Linked DNA regions of Homo sapiens. The protein of the gene in region 1 purifies or fractionates together with the protein of each later gene. This does not show direct contact. Each region holds a gene or a part of one and is shown in the gene's direction. Other genes may lie near its edges. The genes, in order: SLC6A15, GPR89A, CHP1, HACD2, RTN3, PXMP2 and STX12.

The links.
Region 2: the proteins of SLC6A15 (region 1) and GPR89A purify together in Homo sapiens (affinity purification with mass spectrometry, with the first as the bait; 2 studies listed by BioGRID). This does not show direct contact.
Region 3: the proteins of SLC6A15 (region 1) and CHP1 purify together in Homo sapiens (affinity purification with mass spectrometry; one large-scale study listed by BioGRID and IntAct). This does not show direct contact.
Region 4: the proteins of SLC6A15 (region 1) and HACD2 purify together in Homo sapiens (affinity purification with mass spectrometry; 2 studies listed by BioGRID and IntAct, with this or other methods). This does not show direct contact.
Region 5: the proteins of SLC6A15 (region 1) and RTN3 purify together in Homo sapiens (affinity purification with mass spectrometry; one large-scale study listed by BioGRID and IntAct). This does not show direct contact.
Region 6: the proteins of SLC6A15 (region 1) and PXMP2 purify together in Homo sapiens (affinity purification with mass spectrometry; 2 studies listed by BioGRID and IntAct, with this or other methods). This does not show direct contact.
Region 7: the proteins of SLC6A15 (region 1) and STX12 purify together in Homo sapiens (affinity purification with mass spectrometry; one large-scale study listed by BioGRID and IntAct). This does not show direct contact.

Annotation. Positions count from the first base shown.
Region 1 is NC_000012.12:84,885,300-84,888,799, reverse strand, and holds part of SLC6A15 (sodium-dependent neutral amino acid transporter B(0)AT2), read left to right. Parts: intron 1-2,731; coding exon 2,732-2,889; intron 2,890-3,238; coding exon 3,239-3,365; intron 3,366-3,500.
Region 2 is NC_000001.11:145,617,988-145,621,487, forward strand, and holds part of GPR89A (Golgi pH regulator A), read left to right. Parts: intron 1-332; coding exon 333-436; intron 437-3,500. UniProt on the Homo sapiens protein: Voltage-gated channel that enables the transfer of anions such as iodide, chloride, bromide and fluoride which may function in counter-ion conductance and participates in Golgi acidification.
Region 3 is NC_000015.10:41,279,328-41,282,387, forward strand, and holds the end of CHP1 (calcineurin B homologous protein 1), read left to right. Parts: intron 1-8; coding exon 9-62; 3' UTR 63-2,560; downstream 2,561-3,060. UniProt on the Homo sapiens protein: Calcium-binding protein involved in different processes such as regulation of vesicular trafficking, plasma membrane Na(+)/H(+) exchanger and gene transcription. Involved in the constitutive exocytic membrane traffic.
Region 4 is NC_000003.12:123,526,054-123,529,553, reverse strand, and holds part of HACD2 (very-long-chain (3R)-3-hydroxyacyl-CoA dehydratase 2), read left to right. Parts: intron 1-1,079; coding exon 1,080-1,168; intron 1,169-3,500. UniProt on the Homo sapiens protein: Catalyzes the third of the very long-chain fatty acids (VLCFA) elongation four-step cycle (condensation, reduction, dehydration, and reduction).
Region 5 is NC_000011.10:63,712,500-63,715,999, forward strand, and holds part of RTN3 (reticulon-3), read left to right. Parts: intron 1-3,500. UniProt on the Homo sapiens protein: May be involved in membrane trafficking in the early secretory pathway. Inhibits BACE1 activity and amyloid precursor protein processing. May induce caspase-8 cascade and apoptosis.
Region 6 is NC_000012.12:132,694,087-132,697,586, forward strand, and holds part of PXMP2 (peroxisomal membrane protein 2), read left to right. Parts: intron 1-1,797; coding exon 1,798-1,960; intron 1,961-3,500. UniProt on the Homo sapiens protein: Seems to be involved in pore-forming activity and may contribute to the unspecific permeability of the peroxisomal membrane.
Region 7 is NC_000001.11:27,811,219-27,814,718, forward strand, and holds part of STX12 (syntaxin-12), read left to right. Parts: intron 1-944; coding exon 945-1,050; intron 1,051-3,500. UniProt on the Homo sapiens protein: SNARE promoting fusion of transport vesicles with target membranes. Together with SNARE STX6, promotes movement of vesicles from endosomes to the cell membrane, and may therefore function in the endocytic recycling pathway.

The DNA of each region.
Region 1 (3,500 bases):
AGCATGCCAACGTGCCACGCTTAAAAGAAAAATTATTTCAATAGATTTTGGAGTAGAAGTGGATTTTTGTTACATAAATGAATTATATAGTGGTGAATTCAGAGATTTTAATGTACCCCTCACCCAAGTAGCATACATTGTACATAATATGTAGTTTTTTAACCGTATCCCCCATCCCAATTTTCCCCTTCTGAATCTCTAAAGTGCATTACATCATACTGTATGCCTTTGCATACTTACAGCCTAACTCCTACTTATAAATGAGAACATAAAGTTTTTGGTTTTCTACTCCTAAGTTATTTCACTTAGAATAATGGCCTCCAGCTCCATTCAATTTAATATGAAGGGCATTATTTTGTTCCTTTTTATGGCTGAGTAGTATTCTGTGGTGCATAATATCACCTTTTCTTTATCCACTCATTAGTCGATGGGCACTTAGGCTGGTTCCACATCTTTGCAATTGTGAATTGTACTGCTGTAAACATATGCATGTAAGTGTCTTTTTTTTGTTTTTGTTTTTGGCTTTTTTTTTTTTTTCGACAAGGTCTCACTCTGTCACCGAGACTGGAGTGCAGTGGTGCGATCTCAGCTCACTGCAACCTCTCCCCATCTCTGGACTCAAGAGTCAGTCTTCCCACCTCAGCCTTCCGAGTAGCTGGGACCACAGGCGCGCAGCCCACGCTCAGCTGTTTTTTTTTTTCCTTTGTTTTTTGTATTTTATTTTATTTTTTTAGTAGAGACGGGGGGCGTCTCACCATGTTGCCCAAGCTGGTCTCGAACTCCTGAACTCAAGCGATCTGCCAGCCTCGGCCTCCCAAAGTGCTGAGATTACAGGCATGAGCCACCGTGCCCAGCCTCAAGTATCTTTTTCATATAATAACTTTTCTTCCTTTGGGTAGATATCTAGGAGTGGGCTTGCTGGATTGAATGTAGATCTACTTTCAGTTCTTTAAGGGTTCTTCATACTGTTTTCTATAGAAGAATTTGAGATAGAAGAAAAGTCTAAGTATCCAACAGCATGTCACCCACACATGACTGGAAAAAAATCCCTAATGAGTTCAGTCATAATTCTTTCTCTCTCTCTTTTTTCTTACTCATTCACATGCGTATAAAAAATCCATTCATAATCTAAGATTTGATGCAGATGTTAAAATTCACTTTCAGTCTTTGGGAAAAACATTCAGGTCAGCAGTTCCTGAATGTTACTAATCATTTTAGAATTAGAATTTTGTTTTCTAAGCTCATGCATCCAATTTTTACATTGTATATGTAGTTTTGTTAGAATCAACTAAGAATGAAAGACTGAAAATCAGTCATAGAAAGGTTCAGATTATGTAGCAACCACTATGTAGGGAAATGCCTGGATATAATCATTATTACAGAGATAAACAGATGCTGAGATAAATAATTTGAAAAAATCCATTATTTCACTGCTTCAGCTGAATACAGTTACTCACTATGTATTTGTGTTCCACTAAATATTCCATTAAGACGATTCGAATAGCTTCAAAAATCTATTCAGTGCCATTAAACATATGATAAATATGTAGGAAATGTATAATAAAAGGCTCTTTATAGAAAATAGGAATTAGTTACCATTGATTGTAAGACCATTACATTTAACAGTATCTAGTTGGACAAAACTGCAGATTAAAAAATTGAATGTAAGAAGTTTAGCTAAGAGGTCATTTAATAATAATTTGCACATGTAGCCTCATGTAGGAACGACCTCCACAGGCTGAGGTGGGAAGATCCCTTGAGCTGGGTAGTTTGAGAATGCAGTGAACAGTGATCACACCACTGTACTTCAGCCTGGGTGACAGAGTGAGAGCCTGTCTCCAAAAGGAAAGAAAGACACAAAGAAATGAGTAAAGGTTTCACATTCATCTTTTTATAATTCAGTTAATAGAATCTTGTATTAACATTGTCAAACTATTTAGGTACCTTTTGAAATCACTAGTCATAGTCATATGTCTTAATTTGTGATTTAACTAAAAAATACTTTTTAAAATATGGAAATTTTATTACAAGGATAATAACATATACATTTTTACAATAGATATTAAATGTTTTAATTTCTTAATGACTCTCACTACCTTTTCTGATAATTTTGGAAAACAAAATCTATTTGTGTACTTCTTTTATGTAGTATTTATGGGAAAAATGACATTTGTCTCTGGTAGAAGTTATGTTGCTGTTTTTTTTTTTTCTTTTTCAGTCTAAGCAGACGTTTCTTCTTCCATGATGTTATTTTATTTGGAAAAAAAAGTCAACGTTAATGCCATAAAATCTCATTCACTCTAATTTTTCTGATTTAGAATGCATTATTTCAATGAGTTTGTATAAATTTTAATAAATGAGTTCATAAACATTGTGTGAATAAGATTTCTAGGAGTTTGTGAAACCTGCCCCAGAAAAGAATGAATTTTAAATAATCAATTATTTTTATGGAAAATGAAACTGTTTTACTCTTTAAATAAATTTAAGCTAAAGCTATTCATTAATATTCTTAATTTTATCCTAATTATTTTATTATCAGAAACTCTTTGTAGAAATCAAATTCAAGTTTCAGAATCTAGAAAGTGCAAAGTAATGAAATTGTGTCTTCTTCAGAGCTCTCCATAATTGCACTATATAGTAATTCAAATATTATCTTTAATGGGATAAACTGAACTAGTGTATTTTCTACTGTATTGAAAATATAATCTATTTTTTGTTGTTGTTTCTTTAGGTGCATATCTTTTACCATATTTAATACTACTTATGGTAATAGGTATTCCCCTTTTTTTCTTGGAACTCTCTGTGGGTCAAAGAATTCGGCGAGGCAGCATTGGTGTATGGAATTACATAAGCCCTAAACTGGGCGGGATTGGATTTGCAAGTTGTGTAGTAAGTTTCCTTTTGTTGGTGTATGCTGTAATCTTTATAGGGTTTCAAATTATATAATTAACATTTAAATGAAACTTTGGAGTGTGTGTTAATAAACAACTCTTTTACTATGTTTTAGAAAACGTTACTGGCATATGGATTAACTATAAATATTAATATAGCTCAATGTTGTTAATGCCTGTTCTAAGTCCTGAGAAAGACATTAACTTTTTAGAAAAGATAATGTGTCCCAAATAAATAATAAAATGAAGAGGATTTTAAAATGTTAAATAAAATTTTATGCATTTGATCTCATTCTTTTAATGGAAGAGGTATGAGAGGTTTAATGGGATATCATTTTATTTTGCAGGTGTGCTATTTTGTAGCTCTCTACTACAACGTCATCATTGGCTGGAGTTTGTTTTATTTTTCTCAGTCTTTTCAGCAACCCCTGCCTTGGGATCAGTGTCCTTTGGTGAAAAATGCTTCACACACTTGTAAGATATGTATAATACAGTGTTTTGGTATTTAAGCATTATAAGAGTGGCAAAGGTACAAGCTTTCAAGATTTTTTTCTTTTTAAAATAATGTAGAAACATCATTCAAAATTATCATTATAACAGACTTTGCTC
Region 2 (3,500 bases), on another chromosome or scaffold:
CCTTTAAACATTAACCATTATGTACGAATCTGTCAGTTTTTTGTCAGTATGCATCAGGAATTCTAAGTGCTACCTATGACCCTGTCACTTCATCTTCTTGTCCTCAAAATTCTTCATCCACAGGAGGATGCTGGTAATAGTGACTCAAGATTCAGAAGTGCCACCTATATTGATCTTTTTCTTTAGCTCCAGGCAAGTTGCTGTTGTGGCCCTACTTCCAATGACTTGAGAATTTCCTCAAAATAAGTTTTCTGACTTGTAACCAGAAGGAGGTTATCAGTTCAGTTTTTAAACAAGGAAATAACTTCTAGTCTCTGTTTGGCTTTTAACAGATACGTCAGTATGTTGTACAGGTGATCTTCTCCGTGACGTTTGCATTTTCTTGCACCATGTTTGAGCTCATCATCTTTGAAATCTTAGGAGTATTGAATAGCAGGTGAGTAAGAGTACTGAAAACTCCTCTTGAAGAGTTCTGTGCTACATTCTTTACAGTGGAAAAGCTATTGGATCTCATAACTGAAAAAAAAAACACTGTGTTAATAGTTCAGTTTCAGTAACTGCAATGATCACAACAGATATGGGTCACAGCCACCTAATAGCTGGTTTGATAAAGATTATGAGATACCAGGAAACAAAAGATCTGACCGTTAACTCTGAAGAACTCATTGGAGTGAGGCTGTGAAGCTGCAGTCTAGGCTTCACTCCTAGAAGCTTTATTTTTCCAGGACTGCTCGCTGACTGAATCCCAGTAACAGCCCTTCACATTGTTCTGCTGATTGAAAATCTCTACCTGAAAAGATTAGAATTCCTCAGAGCTACTTTAATGATCTCTCTGAAGACTGAAACTCCAGTTCTTACTTAACTTAGTTATTTTTATTGATTTTACAGTCATGGTCAAGTTTGGTTGAATTTAAAGTGTTTCTTAAAACACTTTTTAAAAATAACTCTTTACTCCCCTCCAAATAATAGACTTGTTAGTTTATTAGACAGTCTATTCAAAATATTTCTTGCTTGTTAATCTGCAAGCTTGAGTATGTTTTTAGGCCAGCATTTATATGTAGGGTTCATCAACTATGCTATGCAGACTTTGTTGTGCTTTTTTATCACCACCTGGAAAAACCTTTTAGGAGTAAAGCAGTCTTTCACTCTAAAGTTAGGATTCAGTGCCAAGGTAAGTTCATTATAGACCCCTGGCACTTGAGACTTGTAGAGAGACTATACTCTCAAATCCTTTGATAATCAGAGTTGAAAACGAAATTTAAATTAAAAAGAAAAACTTACTATACAGATGGTTAATCACAAAACATTGAAAGGTTAAAAAAAAAAAAAGAAGAGAGAGGGGCCAGACATAGTGGCTCACGCCTATAATCCTAGCACTTTGGGAGGCTGAGGCAGGAGGATCACTTAAGTGCAGGGGTTCAAGACGAGCCTGGGCAACAAAGTGAGACCCTGTCTCTACAAAAAAATAAAAAAAATTAGCAGAGTGTGGTAGTACACGTCTGTAGTGCCAGCTACCCTGGAGGCTGAAGCAGGAGGATCCCTTGAGCCCAGGAGTTTGAGGATATGCAGTGAGCTGTGATCACTGGACAAGACAATGAGACCCCATCTCTTAAAAAAAAGAGTGAGAGAGAGAGAATCAGAGTTGATAATAATGGTCTCTTGATAGAACAATGAATAACATGTATTATGGTAAAATAGAAGTGTTTTCTGATTCTCCTGCTTTTAAACTTTAATAATCCAAACCTTGGCCGGGCACGGTGGCTCACGCCTGTAATCCCAGCACTTTGGGAGGCCAAGGCAGGCGGATCACGAGGTCAGGAGATCAAGACCATCCTGGCTAACATGGTGAAACCCCGTCTCTACTAAAAATACAAAAAATTAGCTGGGCGTGGTGGTGGGCGCCTGTAGTCCCAGCTACTTGGGGGGCTGAGGCAGGAGAATGGCCTGAACCCAGGAGGCAGAGCTTGCAGTGAGCCGAGATTGTGCCACTGCACTCCAGCCTGGGCGACAGAGCAAGACTCCATCTCAAAAAAATAAATAAATAAAAAATAATCCAAACCTTTTCTTGGATGAGCTAGATATAGATCCTGTGACTATAGAGAATAGACAGGTATTATTTTACATAATGGTTATTAAATTTTATTATCACAACCTGCATCTTTCACTGCTATTTAAGCAGGGGTTGGCAGGCTTTCTTCTGTAAAGGGCCAGATAATAAATATTTTAGGTTTCTGTGGACCAGAAGGTTTCTATCACAAGTACTCAGCTCTGCTGTTGTAGAGAGAAAACAGTCATAGGCAATATATAAACAAACGAGCATGGCCATGCTCCAATAAACTTAATTTGTAAAAGCAGGTGGCTGTGAGGCCATAGTTTGCCAGCTACTCATCTAAATATTGATACAGAGGATTCAGATATTCTAAAGCTATATTTACTGTTTTTGGTAGATGATGTCCCCCAACTTTTAACTTATAGTTAATAACCCGTATAGTAAGAAACATCTGTCATACTATGGTGTATGTTTCCTAAATTTCTTAATTAGTTAAAGAGGATAAGAAGTAGCATTGCTAAAATCTGGTTTTTCTTTGTGTGCTATATAGAGGATTGGGTCTGAGACATATCTTCAGTTATACCTGTTTTTTCATGCTAATGTTTCACCCAATTATGGAACACAAATATGAACCTTGATGATGTATAACTGTCCATTGACTGGACTCAGAATCGTTTTGAAAAGAGAATCTTGGCCAGAATATTCCTTTGACTCACCTTTGAGCAGAGATCATATGACTTCCTATTCAAATATGTAATCTTGTTGGGATGCTTAGTTTTTTCAAGAGAATATCACTTTACTCTCAGCTCAAAAGACTAGTTAAAACATGTGGTTCACTTTTAATAGGCAGTCCATACTGCCAATTAAAGTTGCACTTGTTATTTCAAACCCACTGCTTCCCAAAATCTTTCAGAAGCTTAGCTGAAATACTATGTAGTATTGCCTGGAGGATGTCCAGCTTGTTTCTTTCTCTAAATGTTCTAAAGTAGTTGTTAACCTAGAGGAGCAAAAAGCTGTCAATGTATCTAGTCTAAATGGTATTCACTCCCTGTAGGGTAGCTTTTACTGAATGGCTCTTTGTTTCGTGATGCCTGCCATCTGTACTAAGGAAGGAACAATAAGAAACAGCCCTCTGAAACATATTTCTCTTGAAAGGATGTTGTTGATGACACTGTTAATTGCCTTTGCATTTTCTTTATGAAATCTTTGAAGAAATTTCATTGTAATCTTGTTAATAATTCAGTAACAATAAATGATAATTATGCTTCCTTTGAGGAATTAATTTTTATTTTCTTACAGACATGATGATTTTATCTAACTGATCAAATTTTTTATTTCACATTGACCATTAGAAAACTTAAAGCTAAATTTATGACCTACCCATAGCAACTTTCTAGAATTCTGTTTTATAATAGCCATCAGGCTTGGCCCAATATTTTACCTGTTACCA
Region 3 (3,060 bases), on another chromosome or scaffold:
TCCCCCAGGTTTTGGAGAAGGTGGATGTAGAACAGAAAATGAGCATCCGATTTCTTCACTAAAGGAGACCAAACTGTTCCTTGCGGTCTAGTATTTAAGAACTGGAACTTGAAAGTCCTCCTTCTACCAACTCCACCTCCACCCCCTCATTCCCCTTCTCCCAAAGTACTACTGCTGTTGCATGACAACCCCAAATATGTTCTGTCAACACAAACCTGCCTTTGGTGTATAAACAGGGCATTACAGAATGGTACACCCTATATATTTCTGTTCAGTATCCATTCACTAGTTCTTCATTTATAAATATCATCTTCCCCATTCTGCTGCTGAATGCCACACATCCATCCAGTCTGAGAAAGTGAGAGAGGCAATCATGCCAAGAACAAGCCAGCAAAGCTCTTTCACCAGATGTAGACTGTAGCCCTGCTGCCTTCCCTCCAGCGAGTCTGCCAGCATGCTTCTTCATCCTTTTTATATGTTCTTTGCTTCCTACTTCCCTGTCTTCCAACATACTGTTCACTTACTCTGGCAGTCTTTCTGCTTTTCATTAAGCCTCAAAATCTCCTCTGTTCTACTTGGCACCACAAGCTATGTCCTATATATGTATTTCTGACTTGGCAGGATAGTTCAGGGGTCTGGCAGTTTTTATTTACCTTCATTATTAAATGGGCCTCTGGGATGTTGCCTCTTCAGGAGCTTTTTGGTAATCAATACTTCTCTCAGAAGTATGAGACCATCCTCTGCACTCTGCTCTGTCATCAAAGGCTGCTGGGTGGAGATACCCTTTTTGAAAGGTGGCCTTGGTGAGAGGTATGGAGCCAAGTCTTCTAGGTTGCTTGCCCACATCACTCTATCTCTGGCCTCTGATTCTCAACTTTGTACCTGTGTGGCTCCTCTTGTTAGTGCAATGTTGACTGTTGAAAAAGCAGCAGTATGCTTACAGGTTTGCTTAGTTTGGGGACACCGTTACCACCAGAATGGCTGCTCTGACAATATGCCTAGGGACTTTCTCATGGCTTTTATTTAATAAGGAGGCTGGGCACCCTATAAAGCCTCATGCATTCACACCTTTGCAGCATGGTTTATGCCTCAGTGTTATGTGCACTGGAATGTTTTCCACTTCACATTTCCAAGTAGAAATATTAGTGTTACGGAAGTGCCTAATATCCCAGTCCAAATTTTTTTTTTTTTTTTTTTTTTTTTTTGAGACAGAGTCTTGCTCTGTCACCCAGGCTGGAGTGCAGTGGTGCGATCGCTCACTGCAACCTCAGCCTCCTGGATTTAAGTGATTCTCCTGCCTCAGCCTCCCAAGTAGCTGGGATTACAGGTGTGCACCACCATGCCCGGCTAATTTTTTGTATTTTTAGTGGAGACAGGGTTTCACCATGTTGGCCAGGCTGGTCTCGAACTCCTGACCTCGTGATCCGCCTGCCTCAGCCTCCCAAAGTGCTGGGATTACAGGTGTGAGCCACCACGCCTGGCCCCAGTCCAAAATATTTAAAGATTGTTTCCTTAGTGTCTTGAAGTTTTGCACAAAATTCTTTTTTTTGAGATGGAGTCTCACTCTGTCACCCAGGCTGGAGTGCAGTGGCGTGATCTTGGCTCACTGCAACCTCTGCCTCCTGGGTTCAAGCAATTCTCCCACCTCAGCCTCCCAAGTAGCTGGGATTACAGACGTGTGCCACCATACCTGGGTAATTTTTGCATTTTTAGTGGAGAGGGAGTTTCACCATGTTGGCCAGGTTGGTCTTGAACTCCTGACCTCAGGTGATCCTCCTGCCTCGGCCTCCCAAAGTGCTGGGATTACAGGCATGAGCCACCGTGCTCAGCCGCAAAATTCTTTATGAATTTTACACTTGGCAAATGTTAATGACGGAAGCCATAGTCTGCTCCTAATACATGTCCAAAGCATTGACTGTTGTGTCATTAGCTGCCTGGTTACATTAGCTCCCTGGCTTCTTGTTTAGACCACTGCTAATCCCTTAAAAACAAGAGGTCTGGCACTAGTAGCACAACCTAAGGTGGCATTACAGATCTTTGAGCGAGCCACAGCAACTTTTCTGCCAAGTCAGCTTAGTTTAGACTTCAGTGAATCAGGCTATTGCTATCCTAATGTATGTCTCTATGAGTGTATTTAGCCACACATCTGCCCTTGGTTGACTTTCTGACTCATTGCTTGCTTGCTTGTTTCCTTGCTTTGGAAAACTATTGAAGATTGCTAAAAAATACCACTGCAAAGTGATGGAAAAGGGTGGAGAACAGGGGAGTAGCCAGGCTGGATGGCTCAAATATAAATGAATGAGGAATTCTTTATGAAGTATCAGTCAGATTTTATGATTAAGTGATGTAATATAGGAATTATGTAAAAGGGAAGAATGTCTGATACTGATCTATTAGAGAGGTACTTTAGAGGCTTCTTGATTGGCATAAAGTTCCTAAGGTTATAGATTTTCCCCCCTTTTGGCTGTATAGCAAAGTGTTTTAATCCACGGTTGTGCCTTATTGTTCCATTAAAATTGTATCTTCGATCCATCAATAAATACTTGTGGTTGAAACAAAATAACTTTTGTCCATTTTACAAGAATTTTATGTAACTTAGTCCCTTCAAGTTTGAAATCACAGTGTCTCCCTTACTCAAGTTTATGTCTGTACGGTCAGCTGCAGTCTACTCTGCTGCTGCCTGGATATATGAAGTGGAAACATTCATCGAGGGGCCAGCACTTTTGGCTTCGACATGGTTTTGTCAGCCGTGGCCACTTCCCATTCATTCCAGCTAAGACGCAATTTCTATTCTTGACTCCCTGACTCCTTAAATGTAGAAAAAGCCTAAAAATCCAGTATATGTCCATTCCTTAAATTGCCCACCTCCTCATTCATGTGCAGCCTCAGCGGTGACATACTCTGGTTTTACATGGCTTTTTCTTTGCATTTCTTTTTTGAGATGGAGTCTCACTCTTGCCCAGGCTGGAGTGTAATGGCACAGTCTTGGCTCACTGCAACCTCCGCCTCCCAGGTTCAAGCAATTCTCCTGCCTCAGCCTCCTGAGTAGCTGGGATTACA
Region 4 (3,500 bases), on another chromosome or scaffold:
AAGGTCTCGCTATGTTGTGCAGGATGGTCTAGAACTCCTGGACTCAAGCAATTCTCCTGCTTCAGCCTCCCAGAGTGTTGGGATTACAGGCGTGAGCCACTGTTTCTGGCCATTTATTTTTTTAGTAACAGCTTTGTTAAGATATAACTAACTGCCAGGTGTGGTGGCTCACACCTGTAATCCCAGCACTTTGGGAAGCCGAGGCAGGCGGATCAGCTGAGGTCAGGAGTTCAAGACCAGCCTGGCCAATATGGTGAAGCCCTATCTCTACCAAAAGTACAAAAACTTAGCCAGCGATGGTGGCACATGCCTGTAGTCCCAGCTACTTGGGAGGCTGAGGCACAAGAATCACTTGAACCTGGGAGGTGGAGGTTGCAGTGAGCTGAGATTGCACCACTACACTCCAGCCTGGGTGACAGAGTGAGACTCGGTCTCAAAAAATAAATAAAGAAAATAATCAAAGATGATTCCAGTGTTATAACTTGAGGACATTGGGAGGATAATTGTGCCAGGGCTTGTAATGAACAAGGTGATAAAAAAAAAAAAAGGTTTTAAAGATAGTCTTTTATGTTGTTATGCTTGTTGGCAAAATATTCAAGTAGATAATAAAAGATACCTAACTTAACCATTAGATAGTGTATCAAGTCTGATGTCCATGAGCTTCCAGCACTCATTAGACACAAATAGGATTGATTTCTCATCCTTTGTTTCCTATTTGTTTTGAAACCCGTATTGTAAAATGAGTCTTATTTTAAAGATTAGGTAGTGGTTTTGCTTTCTCCATCTATACAGTAAGTGTAAAAAATACTGTACTTGGTCAGTGGTTTTGAGAGGTTTAAGAAAGGTACCTGGATCCCATGGTTTTATAATACCATTAAAAATATTATTGTTTTTAGGGAGAAAACTTTGTTTTAATGTGGACTACATTGAAAACTTAGTCTGTGTAACAATATAGACACCTTTCAGTTGCTCAAGACCGTTTTGACTCTAAACATTTAAGTTGGAATGTTTTAGAAAATATATTATATATCGAAACTTAGTACAGTACATTTATTTATCCATCCCAAAATTTCTTTCAGGAATTGTTCCATCTTCTGTTGTCCTGACTTCTTTCCAGGTGATGTCAAGAGTTTTTCTAATATGGGCAGTAACACATAGCGTCAAAGAGGTAAGTGTTTATATAGACCAAAATAATGTCAACACTAACAAACACTAGTCAACTTTTCTGATTCACATGTTTGTTATGGCTAAAGAGTTCCAGGTCAGAGTTCCAGGTCATGTCAATATAGCTGAGATAAAGCTCACATTCACTGTAGGAACTGGGTTAATAGTGGGAAACATATCCCAGATATGCAGTGTTGTTAAAAAGAAGACTGATTAAATGGTAAAGTCCTGTAATCTGAGTTCTCATGGAGGTTCAGATGGTGTGGATGTGGTCTGCAACTCAGTTATATTTTTCTGATATCTTGTTCGTATCATGTTGCCCAGGCCGCTCTCGAACTCCTGAGCTCAAGCAATCTGCCTGCCTCACTCTCCCCAAATTCTAGGATTTCAGGCATGAGCCACCACACCTGACCCAAGTCATCATTTTAAACCTATACAGTAGTTCCCTCTTATCCAAGGGGAATACATTCCAAAACCCCCACTGGATACCAGAAACAGCGGCTAGCACACAACCCGATTGCTGCTGACCGAAACACGTTTCTGTTTATGCCTTCTACCCGCAAATGTAATGCCTTTTACATATTTACTAAGCATTTATCATGCCCTGTGGCCGCAACTTTTGCAGTTTGAGGTTCACCAGCAAAACAAGCACAAATTTCTTTTTCCTTCACAATTTCACAAATATAAGATTTGTTCCTACTGTAGGACTTAGCAACTTTAGCATACAGTTTGTTTTGTTTCGTTATTAAGCTGAGAACTTTTACTGTCTCGCTTCAAGGAAGTTCTTTATGGCTCCTCTTTGGCATATCTGAATTGCCAGCATCACTACTCTTGCATTTTGGGGCTGTTTTTAAATAAAATAAGGGTTACTTGAACACAAGCACTGATAACCAAGTTAGCTACTAAGTGATTAATGGGCCAGTAGCATATACAGTATGGATACACTGGACAAAGGGAAGATTCGTGTCCTAGGTGGGATAGAGTGGGACAGCATGAGATTTCATCATGCTGCTGAGAACAGTGTACAACTTAAGAATTAGGAATTGTTTCTTTCAGGAATTTTCCATTTAATATTTTTGGACTGTGGTTGACCAGGTGTAACAGAAGCTACGGAAAGTGAAACTTCAGATAAGCAAGGACTGCGATATTTCTTCCTCTCATACTTTTGTGTAGATACCATTTCCTTTTCATTTTAACCAACAACTCATAATTTTATCTTCCAATAGTCTCCAATGACCTAAAACTTCTTCCTAGTAGTAACTCATTTACATTCTTAAATAGATAATTAATGTACTTTCAGTAATTAAGTGCTAGGTACATGAAGTCAAAGTATTGTTCACTATGAAATATCCAATCACTTTGCCAATATAGTCAAATATTAATTGTCCAGGTGCTAATCCACCAGTTGATAGATTCTTCATGGGCTCTGCTTCCTCCCTTCCACTTAGTGACCACTCCTCAGCTATGAGCACATCTGCCAAAGCAGGTAGACAGGTACGTCAAAAATGCTTTACAACTCAAATCAGGCAATTCTATTAGTCAAGTTGCTGTTAGCAACATTTGCCAGGATTTCCTGTGTAGATCATTGAAACTGGTTGGCTTGCAAAGCTATTAAATGTCTCTGTGGATTATAGGTACATGGACTTGGTGTCATCCTCCATAACCATGCTGCCTGCCAGATGCAAAGGACTTAACATATAACAGACGGTTTCACATACATTATCACATTTGAGCTTTACAGTAATTTGTTATATACTCATTACATTTCCATATTCAAAATTGTTTCTCTACAACCAGAGTGACTCAATTTCTGCTAACATTAACATATCATTTTCTTTACCTGCCAAAAAAAAAAAGGAAAAGAAAAAGAAAAGGCATATCATTTTCTGAAGTATGTAGTACATTCTTCAGTATATTTTATTGTCTTCCCATCGCCTCTTGGATCCTCTTGTTTTTACATATGCACTGTTGATGAATTGACTTACTCTTTTCACTTGTAATTGGACTTCAGCGTTTCTGCTGTCCTAGGATCATGGTTCTTTTCTCCTCATTCTCTTTTTCTCTGCACAGAACTCCTCATTCATCGTTTTGTTTAGAGCAGTAGGTGCCCTCCATCCCTGCCCTACGTCTTCGACAGCTAACTTGAAAAGCCTGTTGCTGTGGCCCCTCAGAGGCCAGTACTTGCTATATGTCACCTTGAAAAGCCTGTTGCTGTGGCCCCTCAGAGGCCAGTGCTTACTATCTGTCACCTTGAAAAGGCTGTTGCTGTGGCCCCTCAGAGGCCAGTGCTTGCTATATGTCACCTTGAAAAGGCTGTTGCTGTGGCCCCTCAGAGG
Region 5 (3,500 bases), on another chromosome or scaffold:
TTTTGAGATGGAGTCTCACATTGTTGCCTGGGCTAGAGTGCAGTGGTGTGATCTTGGCTCACCGCAATTTCCACCTCCTGGGTTCAAGCGATTCTCCTGCCTCAGTCTCCCGAGTAGCTGGGATTATAGGCATGCGCCACCACACTCGGCTAATTTTTTTGTATTTTTAGTAGAGATGGGGTTCTCCATGTTGATCCGGCTGGTCTTGAACTCCTGACCTCGTGATCAGGACCAGCTCGGCCCCCAAAGTGCTGGGATTACAGGCGTGAGCCACCGTGCCTGGCCGACTTCGAATTTTTTAATAAGAATTTTTTGGCCGGGCGCAATGGCTCACACTTGTAATCCCAGCACTTGGAGAGGCCGAGGCAGGCGAATCACCTGAGGTTGGGAGTTCCAGACCAGCCTAACCAACGTGGAGAAACTCCGTCTCTACTAAAAATACAAAATTAGCTAGGCCTGGTGGCGCATGCCTGTAATCCCAGCTACTCCGGAGGCTGAGGCAGGAGAATCGCTTGAACCCAGGAGGCAGAGGTTGCGGTGAGCCAAGGTCACACCATTGCACTCCAGCCTGGGCAAAAAGAGTGAAATTCCATCTCTCAAAAATATAAAAGAATTTTTTATTTGGGTCTAAAAATTTAGAATTTAGAATATGACTACCAACTTAATTTCTTAGTCTTTGTTTCAGATAATATATCTCAGTGGAGTATTTAGAGTTTAAGAAGATGAGTAATCATGGAGCTGAGTACTTGATAAGTTTGAGAACATGTTCATGATCATTGTGGGGATATGACATTTTTTACCTCTTACCATATATCGATTCTCACCCACCCCCCATTTTTTGAAACAAGGTCTTGCTTTGTCACCCAGGGTGGAGTGCATGGCTCACTGCAGCCTCGACCTCCTGGGCTCAAGCAGTCCTCCCACTTCAGCCTCCCAAGTAGTCAGGACCACAGGTGTATGCCACCATGACTGGCTAATTGTTTAATTTTTTTGTAGAGATGGGGTCGCACTGTGTTGCCCAGGCTGGTCTCGAACTCCTGGGCTCAAGCTGTCTCCCTGCCTTGGCTTCTCAAAGTGCTAGGATTACAGGCATGAGCCACCACACTCAGCTGATTCCCTTTTTAGTAAATCTACTAGATCTATGACTTTATTTGTTAATAATTAGAGTAGCACCATGTTTTTAAGTGATTAGAACTCTTGAAAATGAATATCCACACTAAATTCCATTATAGCAAAGAACTAATTTAGAAAATGTTCATAATGAGAGTTTTGATGGCGATTTGTTTTGAGTAGTGTTGAAAGGCTCTTAGAGTGCATGTGAAGGGATGAATCTTTTGAGAAAAGAAAGATAGTAGACATTTTCTGAGACATAAAATAATCCAGATTTATTCCACCAGACAGCTTTACAGTGTATAGTATTTTAAGAGCTAACTGCCTTCAGATTCACTGGACTTTTCTGTCCTTTTGCCAGGTACTGACTTGGGCAACAGCAGTGACTACAAGTGCCATACTGACCAATTGGAAGAGTCTTTGCTTATCGGAGCTGTTCTAAAAGGCTTATTAGTTTTTGGTCTTCATTCTATTTAATGTTTTCATGCCTTTATAAACTTTTTACTTCCAGCCCAATTTTTCCCATTGTCTTGGTACAGGTCAGCTGTGTCCAAGTTTGTTAGGGTTTCAGCTAGCCAAAAATGGTATTTTCATTTGCTGAAATTCTAAACAAAATAATTAAAGTTAAAGCACAGATGATGATGCTACCTTATTTTTCTACATGTGGGAAAGCTTGATTGATAGTAATGATTAGCGCCTGCATCTCACAATCACTGAGAAATGAATGCAGCACTGAGCTCTGTTTGCCCTCTAAGCTTGTCCCCAGAAAAAACAAGATATACCCTAAATAGTAAGTTATAATATTTTTATTAGGGAACATTATTAGAGTTTTTTTTTAATATATCTCGTAGCCATGTCATATTAATCTTTTTTCTTTTTTCCTTTTTTTCATTTTTCTCTTTTCTCTTCTCTTCTCTTCTCTTTTCTCTTTCTCACTCTGTCACCCAAGCTGGAGTGCAGTGGCATGACCATGGCTCACTGCAGCCTTGACCTCCCAGACTCAAGCAATCCTCCCACTCCAGCCTCCCAAGTGACTGGGACTACAGGCACGTGCCACCATGCACGGCTAATTTTTCTATTTTTTGTAGGGGCAGGATCTCAGCATGTTGCCCAGGCTGATCTTGACCTCTTGGACTCAAGCAATTTTCCCTCCTGTGCCTCCCAAAGTTCTAAGATACAGGCATGAGCCACCACACCCAGCCTAGAGAATCCTTAATGTTTGAAGTCTGTCAGGCTATCATGGTGCTCAGCAGAGGATGTGTTAGTATTCTGAGAATAGGACTTCTAACTTTAGTTTTACCTGAGATTATTCTACACCTAACTTGAAACTTTTGGAGTATTAAAGGTTCAAAGAAGTTAAGAGAAAAGCAAAGCTTGATAAACTGACCAGTTTGTGTCCTGCTAAAGCATAGACAGTTTTACCATGCTCTTCCCAGTGACATGAATATTCTTTGGTTAGCATTCAATTTGGTTGCTTTCTTTTTTGTTTAATCAGGCACTGTCACCACTGTATTATTGTCATCATTTTGCTTATTGATTTTGCTTATTGTCTGCCTTCCCCTCTGTGTTGTAAGCTCCATAAAGGCAAGAAATTTTTTCTGTTTTATTCACTGCTTTAAGCCCAGTTTCTAAAACAGTGTCTGACACGTGGTAGGCACTCAATAAATACCTGTTGAATTATTACTAATTCATTTTGTAGACTTTCATCTGTAAGATGACAGATCTGAATCATCTGAAATCTCCATCTCCATAAAACATATAAGCTGGCTGGGTGCAGTGGCTCATGCCTGTAATCCTAGTACTTTGTGAGGCTGAGGCGAGCAGATTGCTTGAGCTCAGGAGTTCGAGACCAGCCTGCGCAACGTGGTGAAACCAGCTCTCTACTAAAAATACAAAAAATTAGCCAGGTGCGGTGGTGCACGCCTGTAATCCCAGCTACTTCGGAGGCTGAGTCAGGAAAATCGCTTCAATCTGGGGGGCGGAGGTTGCAGTGAGCCGAGATTGCACCACTGCACTCCAGCCTGGGCAACAGAACTAGACTCTGTCTAAAAAAAACACACAAAAAACACACAAAAAAACATATAAGCTGAACCTCCCCTGTGGGGTGGAGTCAGTTTGACTCACCTCAGAGTTGTTTGAAGAGAGAGGTTCCCAAACAGTTTTACCATAACCTTAGTTCACTGAATGTTTTGTGGTAGAAACACTGACTAGTAAGTTCAGTAACAATGCATGGCTCAGATTGTGGAATATTTCTGATTTAAATGTAATCTGTAGTACTTCACACTTCAGATTTTTGAACCTTTTAACCTACAATACTGGGCTTCATTTCTGTTATGCCCTAATCTAGTCATGCTGAATATCCATACTGTATAATGGTAGATGCAAACCAT
Region 6 (3,500 bases), about 48 Mb from region 1:
CCCTTAGCCAGTTAGTGAGCGCCCTTGCCAGTTAGTTAGTGAGCGCCCTTGCCAGTTAGTTAGTGAGCTCCCTTAGCCAGTTAGTGAGCTCCCTTAGCTAGTTAGAGAGCTCCCTTGCCAGTTAGTTAGTGAGCTCCCTTAGCCAGTTAGTTAGTGAGCTCCCTTAGCCAGTTAGTGAGCTCCCTTGCCAGTTAGTTAGTGAGCTCCCTTGCCAGTTAGTTAGTGAGCTCCCTTAGTCAGTTAGTTAGTGAGCGCCCTTGCCAGTTAGTGAGCGCCCTTGCCAGTTAGTGAGCGCCCTTGCCAGTTAGTTAGTGAGCGCCCTTGCCAGTTAGTGAGCTCCCTTAGCCAGTTAGTTAGTGAGCTCCCTTAGCCAGTTAGTGAGCTCCCTTAGCCAGTTAGTTAGTGAGCGCCCTTGCCAGTTAGTTAAGTGAGCGCCCTTAGCCAGTTAGATAGTGAGCGCCCTTGCCAGTTAGTTAGTGAGCGCCCTTGCCAGTTAGTTAGTGAGCTCCCTTAGCCAGTTAGTGAGCTCCCTTAGCTAGTTAGAGAGCTCCCTTGCCAGTTAGTTAGTGAGCTCCCTTAGCCAGTTAGTTAGTGAGCTCCCTTAGCCAGTTAGTGAGCTCCCTTGCCAGTTAGTGAGCTCCCTTGCCAGTTAGTTAGTGAGCTCCCTTAGTCAGTTAGTGAGTGCCCTTGCCAGTTAGTTAGTGAGCGCCCTTGCCAGTTAGTTAGTGAGCGCCCTTAGCCAGTTAGTTAGCTCCCTTAGCCAGTTAGTGAGCTCCCTTAGCCAGTTAGTTAGTGAGCGCCCTTGCCAGTCAGTTAGTGAGCGCCCTTGCCAGTCAGTTAGTGAGCTCCCTTAGCCAGTTAGTTAGTGAGCTCCCTTGCCAGTTAGTTAGTGAGCTCCCTTAGCCAGTTAGTTAGTGAGCTCCCTTAGCCAGTTAGTTAGTGAGCTCCCTTAGCCAGTTAGTTAGTGAGTGCCCTTGCCAGTTAGTTAGTGAGCTCCCTTAGCCAGTTAGTTAGAGAGCTCCCTTGCCAGTTAGTTAATGAGCTCCCTTAGCCAGTTAGTTAGTGAGCGCCCTTGACAGTTAGTTAGTGAGCGCCCTTGACAGTTAGTTAGTGAGCTCCCTTAGCCAGTTAGTGCCCTTGCCAGTTAGTGAGTGCCCTTGCCAGTTAGCCTAGTGAGTGCCCTTGCCAGTTAGTTAGCCTAGTGAGTTCCCTTGCCAGTTTGTTAGCCTAGTGAGTGCCCTTGCCAGTTAACCTAGTGAGTTCCCTTGCCAGTTAGCCTAGTGAGTTTAATGAAAAGCTCCACAACCAGGGACATGTCTGATGATTCATTATTGAGTGCTTCTCGAAGCCTGGCCCTGTTCTGGGCACTGCAGTGGACAGAAGACGTAGCCTCCCTTGTGGAGCCTGCCTTCTAGGGGGGACGAGAGGCACAGACTAACCTAACATATGAGATAAGGACAGTGCTAGGCAGAAAATGAACCAGGGCCAAGAGTGTTAGCACAGGCGTGCACACGTGCTGGGACGACCTGGAAGCTGACAGTGTGAGGAGGAGCGAGCCAACATAGCTAGGCGGGGACGCGCTGGGAGCAGAGAGTCAACGGCAGGAGCAAGTCTGGTCTGTTAGAGCAACAGAGACAGAGCGCCCCTGAAGCCGACTTATCTGTACAGACCTGTGTGGCCAATACTGAGGGACATCAGGAAGCAGGGGTTAGGACCTGGGATTTGGGGGTGAAGCTAGACCAGAGAAGAGCACATCCAGAGAACCACAATCTGGCTCACACCCCCTGGGGGCCTCAGGTTCTTCTTCACAGGGCCGCTGAGTCACTTCTTCTACTTCTTCATGGAACATTGGATCCCTCCTGAGGTCCCCCTGGCAGGGCTCAGGAGGCTTCTCCTGGACCGCCTCGTCTTTGCACCGGCCTTCCTCATGTTGTTCTTCCTCATCATGAACTTTCTGGAGGTGGGTGTCTGCCACAGCACTTACTGCAGCTCTTCGTTTAGCACAGGGATTCTTCACCTGACATTCTCGGCAGAATTCAGAGGGTCTGCAGATTTTTCACTCAAATTGAAATTTTGCATTTTCTTTTATGAATATAGGAAGCAAACATCTAGTATTGGCAGGACCTGTTTGTACCCAGTAGAGTCACTTTATTTATTTATTTATTTAAAGACAGGGTTTCACTCTGTCACCCAGGCTGCAGTGCAGTAGCACAATCATAGCTCACTGCAAACCTCAAACTCCTGGGTTCAAGCGATCCTCTTGCCTCAGCCTCCCAAGTAGCTGGGACCACATGTGCGTGCCACCACACCCAGCTAATCAGATATTTTTATATCACATCAGTTGTTACAGATATCTCGAAATATAATTTATGCTCATTACTACTTGGACCTGCCATTAGAGGTCTTGTCACTGTGTAAAGAAAGAAACAGGCCGGGCACAGTGGCTCACACCTGTAATCCCAGCACTTTGGGAGGGCGAGGCGGGTGGATCACCTGAGGTCAGGAGTTCGAGACCAGCCTGGCCAACATGGTGAAACCTCGTCTCTACTAAAAATACAAAAAATTTAGCTGGGCACAGTGGCAGTCGCCTGTAGTCCCAGCTACTTGGGAGGCTGAGGCAGGAGAATGGCGTGAACCCGGGAGGTGGAGCTTGCCGTGAGCCGAGATGTCGCCACTGCACTCTAGCCTGGGTAATAGAGCCAGACTCCGTCTCAAAAACAAAAAACAAAACAAAACAAATTAGCCAGGTATGGTGGTGCGTGCTTGTAATCCCAGCTACTCGGGAGGCTGAGGCAGGAGAATCGCTTGAAGCCGGGAGGTGGAGGTTGTGGTGAGCTGAGATTGTGCCACTGCACTCCAGTCTGGGCAACAGAGCAAGACTCTGCCTCAAAAAAAAAAGAAAAAAGAAAAAAGAAACAGGGCCGGGCATGATGGTGCACACCTGTAATCCCAGCACTTTGTGAGGCCAAGGCCAGTGGATAGCTTGAGGCCAGGAGTTCGGGACCAGCCTGGGCAACATGGCGAATACCCATCTCTCAAAAAGTAAAAAATGAGCCAGTGTGGTGATGTGCACCTGTAGTTCCAGCTGTTTGGGAGGCTGAGGTGAGAAGATCCCTTGAGCCCAAGATGTGGAGGCTGCAGTGAGCAGAGATCACACCACTGCACTCCAGCCTGGGTAACAGAGCAAGACACTGGTTCAAAAGACAAAAATAAATAAATAAATAAATAAACACATTAGTCTGTCAAAATTTTTTCTGAATATTTTGATAACTGTATTTCAGTATTATTGGTTCCTTTGTAGTCCTATTTTATTTATTTATTTATTTATTTTTTATTTTTGAGGCAGAATCTCGCCCTGTTGCCCAGGCTGGAGTGCAGTGGTGCGATTTCAGCTCACTGCAACCTCTGCCTCCCGGGTTCAAACGATTCTCCTGCCTCAGCCTCCTGAGTAGCTGGGATTACAGGAGCCCGCTACCACACCCAGCTTATTTTTGTATTTT
Region 7 (3,500 bases), on another chromosome or scaffold:
TGAGGCAGGAGAATCTCTTGAACCCGGGGGGCGGAGTGAAGTAAGCGCCACTTCACTCCGGCCTGGATGAAAGAGCGAAACTCCGTCTCAAAAAAAAAAAAAAAAGCCAGGCATGGTGGCTCAAGCCTGTAATCACAGCACTTTGGCAGGTTGAGGCAGGAGGATAGCTTAAAGCCAGGAGTTTGAGACCAGCCTGGGCAACAAAGCAAGACCCCCATTTCTAAAAAGAATTTTTTAAAAAGTGTTATAACATTTCACTAGCTTTCTGTTAAGAGGGTTTTTTATGGATTGTTTTTTAATAGAGATGAGGGTTTTGCTATGTTAGCCAGGTTGGTCTTGAACTCCTGGCCTCAAGCAGTCCTCCTGCCTCGGCCTCCCAAAGTGCTAGGATTACAGGCATGAGCCACCGCGCCTGGCCTGTTAAGAGGTATTTAACCCAAAGCATAACCCCAAGGAAATTTTGGAAAACTAGGAGATGTGATTCTGTTGAACTAACTGGCAAAGCACTGATAGGTCACTTAGCTTGCTCTTCTCCACCCACTTAGTACTGAAGGTACTAATGCAGCTTGCACTTTGAGAGTGCCCTGGAAGATGATGGTGCAACATAATTCAATGAGTTCAAATCTCTGGCTACTTTCCTTGTCTGGCAAGCCCCAGTGAGATTACAGAGTATACCCCTAAATGGAAACAGCCAGGAGTCCCATCCGTCATAATTCTGCCACATGTCAGCTTTGCCCATGGAAGCTGAGTCTTTGTTTTCCTGATATCATCAGCTCTTTGCTTCTGGATATGAAGAATGTGGCCCTCCAAGACTTTATTGATAGCAGAGGACTGGAGCCCTGGTAATGTCTTTGCATAGGTTCTGCTGGCAGTAGAGATGTTGGAGATATGTCTTGTTATGCCTTTGAGAGGAGAAATCACCTAGTGTGCCTGTTTCCCTGCAGCCATGAGGAGTGGAACCAGATGCAGAGCCAGGAGGATGAGGTGGCCATCACTGAGCAGGATTTGGAACTTATTAAAGAAAGAGAAACGGCAATTCGGCAGCTGGAGGTGAGAGCCACGTCATGTTTTTTGTTTGACTCAGTGTGTCTGCAGGTATCTGAACTCCTTAGTTCACTTTAATTCTCTTAGTGATTATGAAAAGGCATAAAATGTGTCATTGTGTGATTTGTATTTTTTCTGTCTCAGTGTAATCATGGTGGGTTTGAACTACCGGTTTTTTTTGTTTTTTTTTTTATCTTGGATGGAATTTCGCTCTTGTTGCCCAGGCTGGAGTGCAGTGGTGTGATCTTGGCTCACTGCAACCTCTGCCTCCTGGGTTCGAGCGATTCTCCTGCCTCAGACTCTCGAGTAGCTGGGATTACAGGCATGTGCCACCACGCCCAGCTAATTTTGTATTTTTAGTAGAGACGGGGTTTCTCCATGTTGGTCAGGCTGGTCTTGAACTCACGACCTCAGGTGATCCACCCTCATCGGCCTCCCAAAGTGCTGGGATTACAGGCGTGAGTCACCGCTCCTGGCATGAACTACTGTTATAATGGCATTGGCCTTGGTGCCCAGGAGTACTCAAATCCTTTCCTCAATCACCACATCTTATACGGATCACCACATCTTATTTCTCCTGGAGAAATGTACATGGAGAACAGAACAAGGCAGACAGATATTTTATTGCTCATTAGAACTTTGACCTCAAATCTCAATGCCAACCTCCGGGTTAGGCAGGACTCCATGGAGAGCCCCTTTGCTTAGTCTGAAGAGCCCAGAATAAAGGCAGGCCAAAAGTCTTGCTCCATTTTTGTATATCCTAAAGTCTAATCCCAAGTTGTACATCTTATCCCTTCAGTGAGTCAGAGAAATAGGAACAGTTTTTGAGGTGGAGGTTGAGGGAGAAGTCTGTAGGCCTTTCTTACCTAACTGAGCTTTCAACTTTAATTTTGCACAGTGACTAATAAAATATCCTTTTTTTTTTTTTTCCGAGACTAAGTCTTGCTCTGTCGCCCAGGCAGGAGTGCAATGACACTATCTCAGCTTACTGCAGCCTCCCTCTCCTGGGTTCAAGTGATTCTCCTGCCTCAGCCTCCTGAATAGCCGAGACTACCAGTACGCACCACCACACTCGGCTAATTTTTGTATTTTTAGTAGAGACAGGGTTTTGCCATTTTGGCCAGGCTGGTCTTGAACTTCTGACCTCAAGTGATCTGCCTGCTTCAGCCTCCCAAAGTGCTGGGATTACTGGCATGAACCACTGTGCCCAGCTAAAATATCCTTAAACCTGAGTTTTCTCCAGTTTAGTTTTCTCCGAAGGTAGAAGGCTGCCATTGCTGGGATCAGGGGAGGAGAAAAGGAGAGAGGGAAATTTTGAGCTCTTCCTTGGCCTCCATCTGTAGCAGTGGTTCTGAACTGTGAGTGCACATGAGGATCACCTGGAGAAGATTTTTTTTTAATGCCCCAGCTCTCATCCACCACTAATTACCTGATGGGATAATGTGAAATTCCTGTTTATTATATGTTAAAAATGGGCAAATATCCATTATTTTATATGGTTCAAACTAATAAATCATAATTTCTGGGCGTGAGGCCCTGGGCATGGGTATTTTTTTAAAAAGTTCCCCCAGGTGATTATAATATGCAGCCAGGGTTGAGACCCACTGCCCTAAAGGCCATCAATGTCTGTTTTTATCTATTTATTATTTATTTTTTGAGTCAGAGTCTTACTCTGTCACCCAGGCAGGAGTGCAGTGGCGCGTTCTTGGCTCACTGCAACCTCCACTTCCTGGGTTCAAGCGATTCTCCTGCCTCAGCCTCCTGAGTAGCAAAGATTATAGGTGCCCGCCACCACTCCTGGCTAATTTTTGTATTTTTAGTAGAGACGAGGTTTTGCCATTTTGGCCAGGCTGGTCTTGTCTGTTTTTAGATGGGATAGTTTATCCTTAAGTTATGATTATTTTATTGCCTTCAAAAATGTCATATCTTTACTCTTTTTCACCTACTGCTACTACTAATTGAATTAATTGTCTAACATTAGAAATATGGCTAAGTGCAATGGCTCATGCCTGTAATCCCGGCAAGTTGGAGGCTGAGGCAGGATGATTGCTTGAGCCCAGGAATTCAAGACAGCCTGGGCAGTGTAGCAAGACCTTACCTCTACAAAAAATAAAAAATTAACCGGGTGCTGTAACATGTACCTGTGGTCCCAGCTACTCAGGAGCCTGAGGCAGAAGATCACTTGAGCCCAGGAGATCAAGGCTGCAGTGAGCCATGATCGTGCCACTGCAATCCAGCCTGGGCAACAGAGCAAGACTCTGTCTCAAATAATAATAATAATCCTTCCTTCAAAGAAAAATTACTAGCCGGGCGCGGTGGCTCATGCCTGTAATCCCAGCACTTTGGGAGGCTGAGGCGAGTGGCTCACCTGAGGTCTGGAGTTCAAGACCAGCCTGACCAACATGGTAAAACCCCGTGTCTACTAAAAACACAAAAAATTAGCCGGGTGTGGTGGT